Homo sapiens: one gene and its partners. The protein of the gene in region 3 purifies or fractionates together with the protein of the main gene of each other region. This does not show direct contact. Each region holds a gene or a part of one and is shown on either strand. Other genes may lie near its edges.

Region 1 (2,909 bases), on a different chromosome or scaffold from region 3:
GGGCATTGCACTATCCTCTATACAGGGTGTTCCTTTCAATGACCTTTCCATCAATTAGAAGAGGAAAAGGGTTTGTTCTTCTTTTCAGTGAGCCTTGCATCTTAGAGACAAGAACACACATTTGGTTATAAATCTCGATGTACCTGGATGCTCCAATTACAGTGTAGAGTCAACATCCAGTTTTATATGTAGCCAACACTAATCAGCTATTTTCATTATTGCTAATGAATTATGCTACTTGTATCTGAATCAGGAAGTCACCACTAAGCACCTCAAATTATTTTAATTGTGCTTGAAAAATTTCTTTGTAAAGCCTCTGCTGGGGATTATTGCACAGCTGGTGACTTGTTGAAAGACCATCTATCATCAGGTTACAAAAAAAATCTGATGCTTACTTGGAAGAAGGCGAAATCTCAGAATGAAATTATACACGTACATGTGTTTTAAGTTAGGTGTTGAGCCTGATACATCTGCTTGACTGTCACTACATTCTGGTATGTTGCCCAGAGGTAATAGTACATTTTTAGGGAATTATGCAAGAGGCTTGCAAGTGTGTTAATATTGGCAAGAATGCAGTGTTCGAAAGAGATAGTAGCAGATTGCCATTGATATATGAGAAGTATATCTTTTTAGGGACCTCTTATTATTTTTGAATGCCACTTACAGGTGTATTTCTTGGAAAGAAATGGAACAAACCCTGGTTATTTTAACATCCATCCTCCATCCCAATCCCTCTTTCTCATAGAAAGAGACTTACCCATGTGACATTGCAAATTTAGCTTAAGAGGTCACTTATTAAAATTTAGAGTTAATTTTATAACCAATAGAACTAGGCTGAATATTTTGGAATACAAAATGCATTGTTGCTTTCTTGGGAAACAGTATCTAATTTCACTTTTGAACCTTGAACTTCAAATAAAGAGCAGGTGATTGATAGGAGGTTAATGGACAGCCCGGGGAGGAACAGGGAAAGCCACCTATTTCATAGTTTAGCCTTCTCTATGCTCTCCTCTTTGGCAGCCCACAAGGGCTGACTCATTGCCACATTATTATAATTAAGGCCTAGCTGGCACAGGAATGAAAAAAAAAATGGTAACAGATCTTAGGAGAGGGGTGGTGGTGGCTCAGAGAAGGGCCAGGCATTCAGATCACTTTGTGCACCAACTGTTCAGTGTCAAGGATTATGTCACATGGTGGAGGGGGTACCCATGCCTCTGTGGTTTGTCCAGGGATGCTGCGGAGAGCTCACAGATGCTGATTGGCTGGCTTGGAAACGTCACCTCTGGACATTGCAAAGGCTTGTAGAAGGTGGGAATGTAAACACATAGCGGGTGCCTTTTATCCAACTCTCAAGGTAAAGCTAATATTTATAAGTTCTCAAATGTTAGCTCGATGTTTCCAGAGCCATTGGGCCTTGCTGGAAATTGAGACATGAATACAAAGCAGTTACTTTATTTATTCTTATATCATTTAAAAGACAGAAGAACCTTCCAGTATTCCAGTCAATTTTCCAAATCAGTTAAGAGGAAAGATACAGAACTAGATGTTTTATTTTCTATGATTTCTTAAGCTAGTTGCCAAGAATGAATGAATGAACAAAAGAAAAAAGAAAAGAAAGAAAGAGGAAGGAAGGAATGAAGGAAGGAGGGAAAGAAGGAAGAGGAGAGGAAGAGAGTGAGAGGAAGAAAATTCATTTTAGTTACAGAAGAAAATATAATAACTTATTGTTATTTATTATTTTTATTTGTAGATCCTGGTGAATGTGGGTAATTTTTTCACATTGGAGTCTGTCTTTGTAGCACCAAGAAAAGGAATTTACAGTTTCAGTTTTCACGTGATTAAAGTCTACCAGAGCCAAACTATCCAGGTGTGTGTTTTGACCTCTTCCATCCATACTCTCAACCAACTGTGCTTATCTTTAGTGGGTTATATATTTAAGTACTTATCCAAAGTTGTGTTTCCACAATAGAAATAAGCAGCCATCTTTATCATTTATTTTAAAACACTTAATTTCTAATTTTTTTCTCTTTAACATCCATTAAGACGTGACAAAAAGCGTATAGAAAAATAGAGAATTGAAGTTATTACCTTAATAACAATCAAACATTTTTTAAAAATCCATGGTTGAGTAAAAATTCAGTGACACAAATCTCTTTGTAAGATCATGCTTTCATTTAATGCATGTACAAGAATTACTTGAACTCATAAGAAAAAAACTTGTAAGACTAGTACAGCTTTACAAGTGCATACTAAATAAATAAAACACATTTGCTATTTTTTAAAATTATGAGATACAGCTAATCAGTAAGAATAAGTCTATGAAGGAGGAACTATTCAAAATACATTTTTAAAAAACGGTGTTCTATGCGTATGCTTGTGTTTATCCTCAGTTACTCTGATGCTAGTGAATTCTTACCAACTGCAGTTCCACAGTTAATATATTTTGTGTTCTGCTTTCTAAGACAATGGGCTTGACCTTACATTCAAAAGCAACAGTGGAGCTTGTTCCAACAATATTCCAGTATGCTAATACTAAATGACACAAATACATGTGCATGGAATTCTAAGATAACCTTTTATCTTATGCTCAGTATTTATGTTATACATTATGTCAATATGAATGATAGATTACATGCTTATCTATTAATACTTTTACATGTCCTAGTAAATGGATAAATGGATCAGCCTCAGATTTAATTTATTCCATATGACTTTTAACCTAAAAAAATCTAGAAAACAAACTTACTTCCATGGAAAAGTTTTCCCAACCCCCAATATTTAGAAATGTATGCAATGCTTGACACAGTGTAATCAAAATTGAAGAATAGAAAATAGTTAATACAGTTTTGAGTTGATTCTAATTATCTGTCACTGAAATCTCTAAAATTTAAAATCTAAATCTAAAATCA
Region 2 (3,762 bases), on a different chromosome or scaffold from region 3:
CCATAATACACATGTATATGTGAATGTAAAAATGTATGTGTACATGTAAATATGCATATATTAATACCTGTAATATATACTCATAGATACTCTTGAGATGCATTAAGAACTTGTTAATCTTAATCATTAAGCTAATGCTATTAATGTGATGGCATTTACTATAAAACCTTAGGAAGTCTAAGAGAAAGTCAATCAAATGACCTATTTACACACCCAAAACAAGAAATATATTTAAAATAAATATATTAATAAATTAATATATTTAATATTTAAATATAATAGACATAAGATTAGCTACCTTTGAATTTAAGGTTAACCTAGCCCTATTCTTTAATTAACACACTATTAAGAAACGGTTTATATAATTGTTACACCTTTGCAAACACTTCAAAATGAGCATTCAATGTCAATGCTTGCCCAAATGATTTAAAATAGTTCTAAGGGACTTTGGAGCCAATATTTCAAAATGAAGAAATCAGACTGTTTGTCAGCGCTTTCAATGTGACATACTTTGAAATGGTATGCTTTTACATGTAATAGCCTGGTTTCTGCCAATTATGCATCTGTAGTATCTGTACCTTATATAATAATTATTGCAGCATCCTCTAGGGTAGAATTTGTGACCAGCTCAGATAAATTTTAAATAATTTTTTAAGAGTGTAGAGTTACGCCATTCCCGAAGACTGCAAAAGGGATATCCCAGCTATCCAGGGAACCAGAAGCAACATTTAAGCTGTTCTCTCTGGCTCTAGTTTCCTTTCCCTGCCCACTCCTCATTAAAAAAAAATAAGTTAACTACCAATATGAAGGAGAACGAGGAGAGGAATTTTTAGATTTCCGCCTTACAATTCATACAGACTGTTTTATTTGAATGAGTGAAATGTACCAGTCAGAACATCAAGATGACACGTTTTATACAGAAGTCAGTTGTACTGTATCCGAAATCCATCTATTGTAATAATACGTAAGCATCATTACAGACTTATAGATGGGAGGTTTCTCATGAACAAATAAAAAAGGGGAAAGTTGCCAAATTGCAAAGAATTCTTCACATATTTATTTACATTTTTCTCTCTTACATAATCTAAGAGTAGGTAATTGTTTCAATATTGCAAGCAATCCTCTGCAGTATATTTTGAGGGTTAAAAAGATCACACACTGAGCTTCAGACATTTTAATCAAGTTTCACAAGTTTTAACTCATGTAAAATGAGAACTAATTTCTTATGGAAAACACGGGGTTCAGTTCAGGGAAAGTAAACATCCACTTGTCTGCTCTGATGATCAGACCATACCTGGGGTATTAGGTTCAGTTCTAAATGCCCTGTTTTTAAGAGGCACATTCACATATGAAACACATTCTCAGAACAGTCAGGATACCAAAACAAAGTTATGTGATGGAGGTTTAAGTTTGGGGATGATCTGCCTGAAGAAGAGTAGCCTTCCCCTGATAACCAGTTTTTAAGCTTTTGAAGAGCTGTTTTTCAGGAAAAAAGCTTTTGAAGGCTATTTTTTTTTGAAGAGCTTTTTTTTTTTTTTTTTTTTTTTTTTTTTTTGGTGAAATGGAGTGTTGCTCTGTCACCCAGGCTGGAGTGCAGTGGCGCGATCTCTGCTCACTGCAACCTCCACCTCCCAGGTTCAAGCAATTCTCTGCCTCAGCATCCCGAGTAGCTGGGATTACAGGCATTCACCATCACACCTGGCTAATTTTTGTATTTTTAGTAGAGACAGTGTTTCACCATCTTGGCCAGCCTGGTCTTCAACTCCTGACCTCATGATCCACCCACCTTAGCCTCCCAAAGTGCTGGGATTACAGGTGTGAGCCACCGCGCCTGGCCAGAAAAGCTGGGTTTTTTTGTTTGTTTTTTGTTTTTGAAGAGCTGGTCTCTGTCGCTCCTGAGAGCCTATATCCAACTCAATGGCTAGAGGTTATAGAAGGCAAATTGTCCCTGGACATAAGGACAGGCCTCCAAACAATCAGAGCTGCCCAATGTGGCTCTGGATGCTTCCTGAAGAGGTGGCCTGCCCATCTTCAGAAATATTCTGTCAAAGGTCTCCATTTTGTGTTGGAGAGCATACTAGATGGGTGTTTTCTTCCGTGAGCTTAGGATTCTCTCGCCTGAGTTCATCTTCAACCATCTCATTGTAATTTTCTATTACTAGGTTTCCCTGTGGTCTCTGCTAGTGACTCTGGTGGTCCTTTTCATAATGACCGGCACTATGTTAGGACCTGAACTGCTGGCAAGTATCCCTGCAGCTGTTTATGTGATAGCAATTTTTATGCCTTTGGCAGGCTACGCTTCAGGTTATGGTTTAGCTACTCTCTTCCATCTTCCACCCAACTGCAAGAGGACTGTATGTCTGGAAACAGGTAGTCAGAATGTGCAGCTCTGTACAGCCATTCTAAAACTGGCCTTTCCACCGCAATTCATAGGAAGCATGTACATGTTTCCTTTGCTGTATGCACTTTTCCAGTCTGCAGAAGCGGGGATTTTTGTTTTAATCTATAAAATGTATGGAAGTGAAATGTTGCACAAGCGAGATCCTCTAGATGAAGATGAAGATACAGATATTTCTTATAAAAAACTAAAAGAAGAGGAAATGGCAGACACTTCCTATGGCACAGTGAAAGCAGAAAATATAATAATGATGGAAACCGCTCAGACTTCTCTCTAAATGTGGAGATACACAGGAGCTTCTATCTTGCTGAAATATTGCTTCATATTTATAGCCTGTGGTAGTGCACATGGTTAACATAAAAGATAACACTGGTTCACATCATACATGTAACAATTCTGATCTTTTTAAGGTTCACTGGTGTATTAACCAAACGTTGTCACAAATTACAAATCAATGCTGTAATATAATTTGCACCTGGAATGGCTAACGTGAAGCCTGAATTAAATGTGGTTTTTAGTTTTTACCATCACCAATTTCTATGACTGTTGCAAATACAGAATCTATTAGAAAACAGGGTCTTGGAAATGTAGAATTTTGGCGCACTATGAGGAAAAACAAGCTATCTTTGTAAAGCATAATTGAGTTTAATGTAATTGTTGTAAAAAAAAAAGTGTGCTTGCTCTACTTAAAATTCCTCACAATGTTGAATTTTGACCTGTATTCAGAAGAATTCCAAAACAGGTCAGTTAAATAAGGAAATATAGTATTTGTCAAACCAGTATCAGAGAAAAGTTACATTAATGTATTTGATTACTTGATCTGGTATCTACTTATTAATGAATAATCAACATTTTTCTAGTGGACAAGCCATGTTCTTTTCGACTGGTCTTCTGCATTTATGTAAACACACCCCAAATCAATTTATCTTTTGTAGGAATGATTTGGTTGGGAAATTTTTCAGAACCGCTCTGGAGCAGAACAAAACGGTACCTCCCGGTCACCACTGGGACTGGGGGAAGGGACACGCTCCAGGGGAGAAAACAATTCGCCTAGATGAAGATCCCTGGGTGGTTCTCCATGCACTCGCCGAGGGGGCTCAGTGGGTAGCCTCTTAGAGCAGCTCTGAGAATAAACTTATCATCTGAGTTAACGGGTAATAGACCCAGAACAGTTCCCAAACCTTGGCACTTTCGCTCACTTAGCCAGAGGCACCCGGCCTGGCCTCGGCTTCCCGGTGAGGGAGCGGGGGTGGGGGGGATGCGCAGGCACCTGGAACAATCAGGGCACCGGGAGAAGCCGGCTCAGCTGATGCCGGTGATGAGTTTCTCTCATTGAAATCCTCCTCACCTCGGGCGCCTTGGTT
Region 3 (3,578 bases):
AGACCACCCTGGACAACATGGTAAAACCCCATCTCTACTGAAATACAAAAAATTAGCTAGGTGTGGTGGTGCACACCTGTAGTCCCAGCTACTTGGGAGGCTGAGGCAGGAGAATCACTTGAGCCCGGGAGGTGGAGGTTGCAGTGAGCCAAAATTGCACCACTGCACTCCAGCCTGGGAGACAGAGTGAGACTCCATCTCAAAAAAAAAAGAGTATTGGCCAGGCGTGGTGGCTCACGCCTGTAATCCCAACACTTTGGGAGGCCAAGGCAGGCAGATCACCTGAGGTCAGGAATTTGAGACCAGCCTGGCCAACCTGGTAAAACCCCATCTCTACTAAAAATACAAAAAAAGTAGACAGGCATGGTGGCAGGCGCCTGTGATCCCAGCTACTCCAGAGGCTGAGGTAGGAGAATCACATGTGGGGAGAATCACATGAACCCTGGAGACGGAGGTTGCAGTGAGCCAAGACTGCACCACTGCACTCCAGCCTGGGTGACAGAGCGAGACTCTGTCTCAAGAAAACAAAAAAAAAAAACTATTTGGGGATGAGAATGAAAGCCAGAAAAGAGCAGGACCATCTCCTGTGGGTAAAGAATGTGATGTTGGATGAATTCCTTCCTACTTCTGAAGGAAGTTTTAACCATTAAGCAGTAGAATTCCCCAAGTTCAACTTTTTTTTTTTCTTGAGGTGAAATTCACATAAAATTAATCATTTAAAAGTGTACAATTCAATGGCATTTAATACATTTTCAGTGTTGTTTAACCATTGACTTTAGCAGTCCTGAAACATTTTCATCACCGCTAAAGGAGACCCCATCTCCATTCATCAATTCACCCCGTCTCCCCACTACCCCAGCCCCCTGGCAACCACTAATCTGCTTTGTCTCTCTGTGGATTTACCTATTCTGGATATTTCATTTAATGGAATCATATAATATGTGTCTGGCTTCTTTACTTAGTGTAATGTTGTGTTTTTGTTTGTTTTTGAAACAGAGTTTCGCTCTTGTTACCCAGGCTGGAGTGCAATGGAGCAATCTCAGCTCACTGCAACCTCTGCCTCCCGGGTTCAAGCAATTCTCCTGTCTCAGTCTCCCAAGTAGCTGGGATTACAGACATGCACCATCACAGCTGGCTAATTTTATATTTTTAGTAGAGATGGGGTTTCTCCATGCAGGTCAGGTTGGTCTTGAACTCCCGACCTCAGGTGATCCGCCTGCCTCTGCCTCCCAAAGTGCTGGGATTATAGGTGTGAGCCACCCTGCCCGGCAATGTTTTTAATTAATTTATTTAATGACACAGCGTCTCTCTCTGTCATCAAGGCTGGTGTGCAGTGGTGCAATCTCGCCTCACTGCAACCTGGGTTCAAGCGATTCTCCCACCTCAGCTTCCTGAGTAGCTAGGACTACAGGCACACGCCACCATGCCTGGCTAATTTTTTGTAGAGATGGGATTTCGCCATGTTGCCCAGGCTGGTCTCGAACTCCTGGACTCAAGCGATCCAGTCACCTTGGCCTCCCAAAGTGCTCGGATTACAGGCGTGAGCTGCTTGTATCAGTGGTTCATTCCTTTTTTTGAGACGGAGTCTCGCTCTGTTGCCCCAGGCTGGAGTACAGTGGCACGATCTTGGCTCACTGAAACCTCCGCCTCCAACCTTCAAGTGATTCTCCTGCCACAGCCTCCCTAGTAGCTGGGATTACAGGTGCACGCCACCACACCTGGCAGATTTTTGTATTTTTAGTAGAGATGGGGTTTCACCATGTTGGCCAGGCTGGTCTCGAACTCCTGGCCTCAAGTGATTTGCCTGCCTCGGCCTCCTGGGATTACAGGTGTGAGCGACTGCAGTCACACCGTCTGATTCTTTTTGTATGTCAAATTTGTAGGCATTGGACTACTTCAGCATGCACACCATTAAGTAGAATTCGTATTTGTTTCCAGATTTTTTTTTTCTTCAAAGCGAAAGATATGATTGTCTTAGTTCAGGCTGCTATAACCAGATAGTGTAGACTGTGTGGCTTAAATGACAAACATTTGTTTGCCGCAGTTCTAGAGGCTGGATACCTGAGGTCAGGGTGTCAAATGGCTCATTTCTTGGTGAGGGCTCTTTTCCTGGTTTGCAGATGGATGCCTGCTTTCTGTATCTTCACCTCTCAAGGTGGAGGGGAGATCTCTTGTCTCTTTTTCCTTTTTAAGGGCATTAATCCCGGCCGGGCATGGTGGCTCACGCCTGTAACCCCAACACTTTGGGAGGCCCAGGTGGGCAGATCACTCGAGGTCAGGAGTTCGAGTCCAGCCTCACCAACATCATGAAATCCCATCTCTACTAAAAATACACAAATTAACCAGGTGTGGTGGCGCATGCCTATAATCCCAGCTACTTGAGAGGCTGAGGCAGGAGAATCGCTTGAAGCCGGGAGGTGGAGGTTGCAGTGAGCTGAGGTCATGCCGCTGCACTCCAGCATAGCATCAGAGTAAGACCCTGTCCCAGAAAAAAAATAAATAAATAAGGGCATTAATTCCATCATGAGGACCCCACCTCATGATCTAACATAACTTTTATTGTCTCTCAAAGGCCCACCTCCAAATACCAGCACATTGTGGATGAGGGCTTCAGCGTTAGAACTGAGAGAGACACACACGTTTAGTCTATAGCAATGCACAAGCCTTTGGTGTACAGTCAACGAATTTCGACAACTGCATACACCCATGTAACGAAACCCCTATCAATATCTAGAACATTGCCACCACCCGGTCATCCCCTCATACACTTTCCAGTCATTCCCCACCCCATAGGAAACTACCACTATTCTGACTTTTTTTTAGACAGAATCTCACTCTGTCACCCAAGCTGGAGTGCAGTTGCCCCATCATAGCTGCTTGCAGCCTTGACCTCCTGGGCTCAAGGGAACCTCCCGCCTCAGCCTCCCAAAGTGCTAGGATTACAGGCGAGAGCCACCACTCCTGGCCTGTTCTGACTTTTTTTCACCATAGAACCATAGATTAGTTTTGCCTCTTCTGGAATTTCCAGTAAGTGGAGCCACACAACAGGCTCATTGGTTTCTGGCTTCTCTCACTTGGAGCTGTCATTTCCAGCCCTTCCTTGTGGTGCAGATGAGCACTGAGGCCCAGAGAAGTGCAGAGACTCATCCGGGGCAACCCAGTACCTAGCGGCTATAACCCAGTGCCCCTGGCCCCTGTCCGCACTGCCCAGCGCCTCTAACCCCCCCGCCCATCCTCTCCCCATAGGGCGAGAGGCTGAGCCACGCTGTGGGCTGTGCTTTTGCCGCCTGCCTGGAGCGAAAACAGCGACGGGAGAAGGAATGTGGGGTCACGGCCGCCTTCGATGCCAGCCGCACCAGCTTCGCCCGCGAGGGCTCCTTCCGCCTGTCTGGGGGTGGGCGGCCTGCTGAGCGAGAGGCCCCGGACAAGAAGAAAGGTGGGTGTTGCCCCAAGCGCCAGCAGAGCACAGAGTGGGCACAGGGTACCCAGTATCAGGGGGCAGGGAGCTGCAGAGGTGCAGAGACTCAACAGTTTACAAAGTAGGGGATGCTTCAGGCCAAGCGCCATGGTTCACACCT

What was found. The genes of interacting proteins can lie anywhere in the genome.
Region 1: the proteins of NUMBL (region 3) and CBLN4 purify together in Homo sapiens (co-immunoprecipitation; one large-scale study listed by IntAct). This does not show direct contact.
Region 2: the proteins of NUMBL (region 3) and SLC10A4 fractionate together in Homo sapiens (co-fractionation; one large-scale study listed by BioGRID). This does not show direct contact.

The regions. Positions count from the first base shown.
Region 1 is NC_000020.11:55,999,689-56,002,597, reverse strand, and holds part of CBLN4 (cerebellin-4 precursor), read left to right. Parts: intron 1-1,750; coding exon 1,751-1,867; intron 1,868-2,909. UniProt on the Homo sapiens protein: Acts as a synaptic organizer in specific subsets of neurons in the brain. Essential for the formation and maintenance of inhibitory GABAergic synapses.
Region 2 is NC_000004.12:48,486,265-48,490,026, forward strand, and holds the end of SLC10A4 (sodium/bile acid cotransporter 4), read left to right. Parts: intron 1-2,162; coding exon 2,163-2,675; 3' UTR 2,676-3,262; downstream 3,263-3,762. UniProt on the Homo sapiens protein: Transporter for bile acids.
Region 3 is NC_000019.10:40,677,090-40,680,667, reverse strand, and holds part of NUMBL (numb-like protein), read left to right. Parts: intron 1-3,246; coding exon 3,247-3,436; intron 3,437-3,578. UniProt on the Homo sapiens protein: Plays a role in the process of neurogenesis. Required throughout embryonic neurogenesis to maintain neural progenitor cells, also called radial glial cells (RGCs), by allowing their daughter cells to choose progenitor over neuronal cell fate.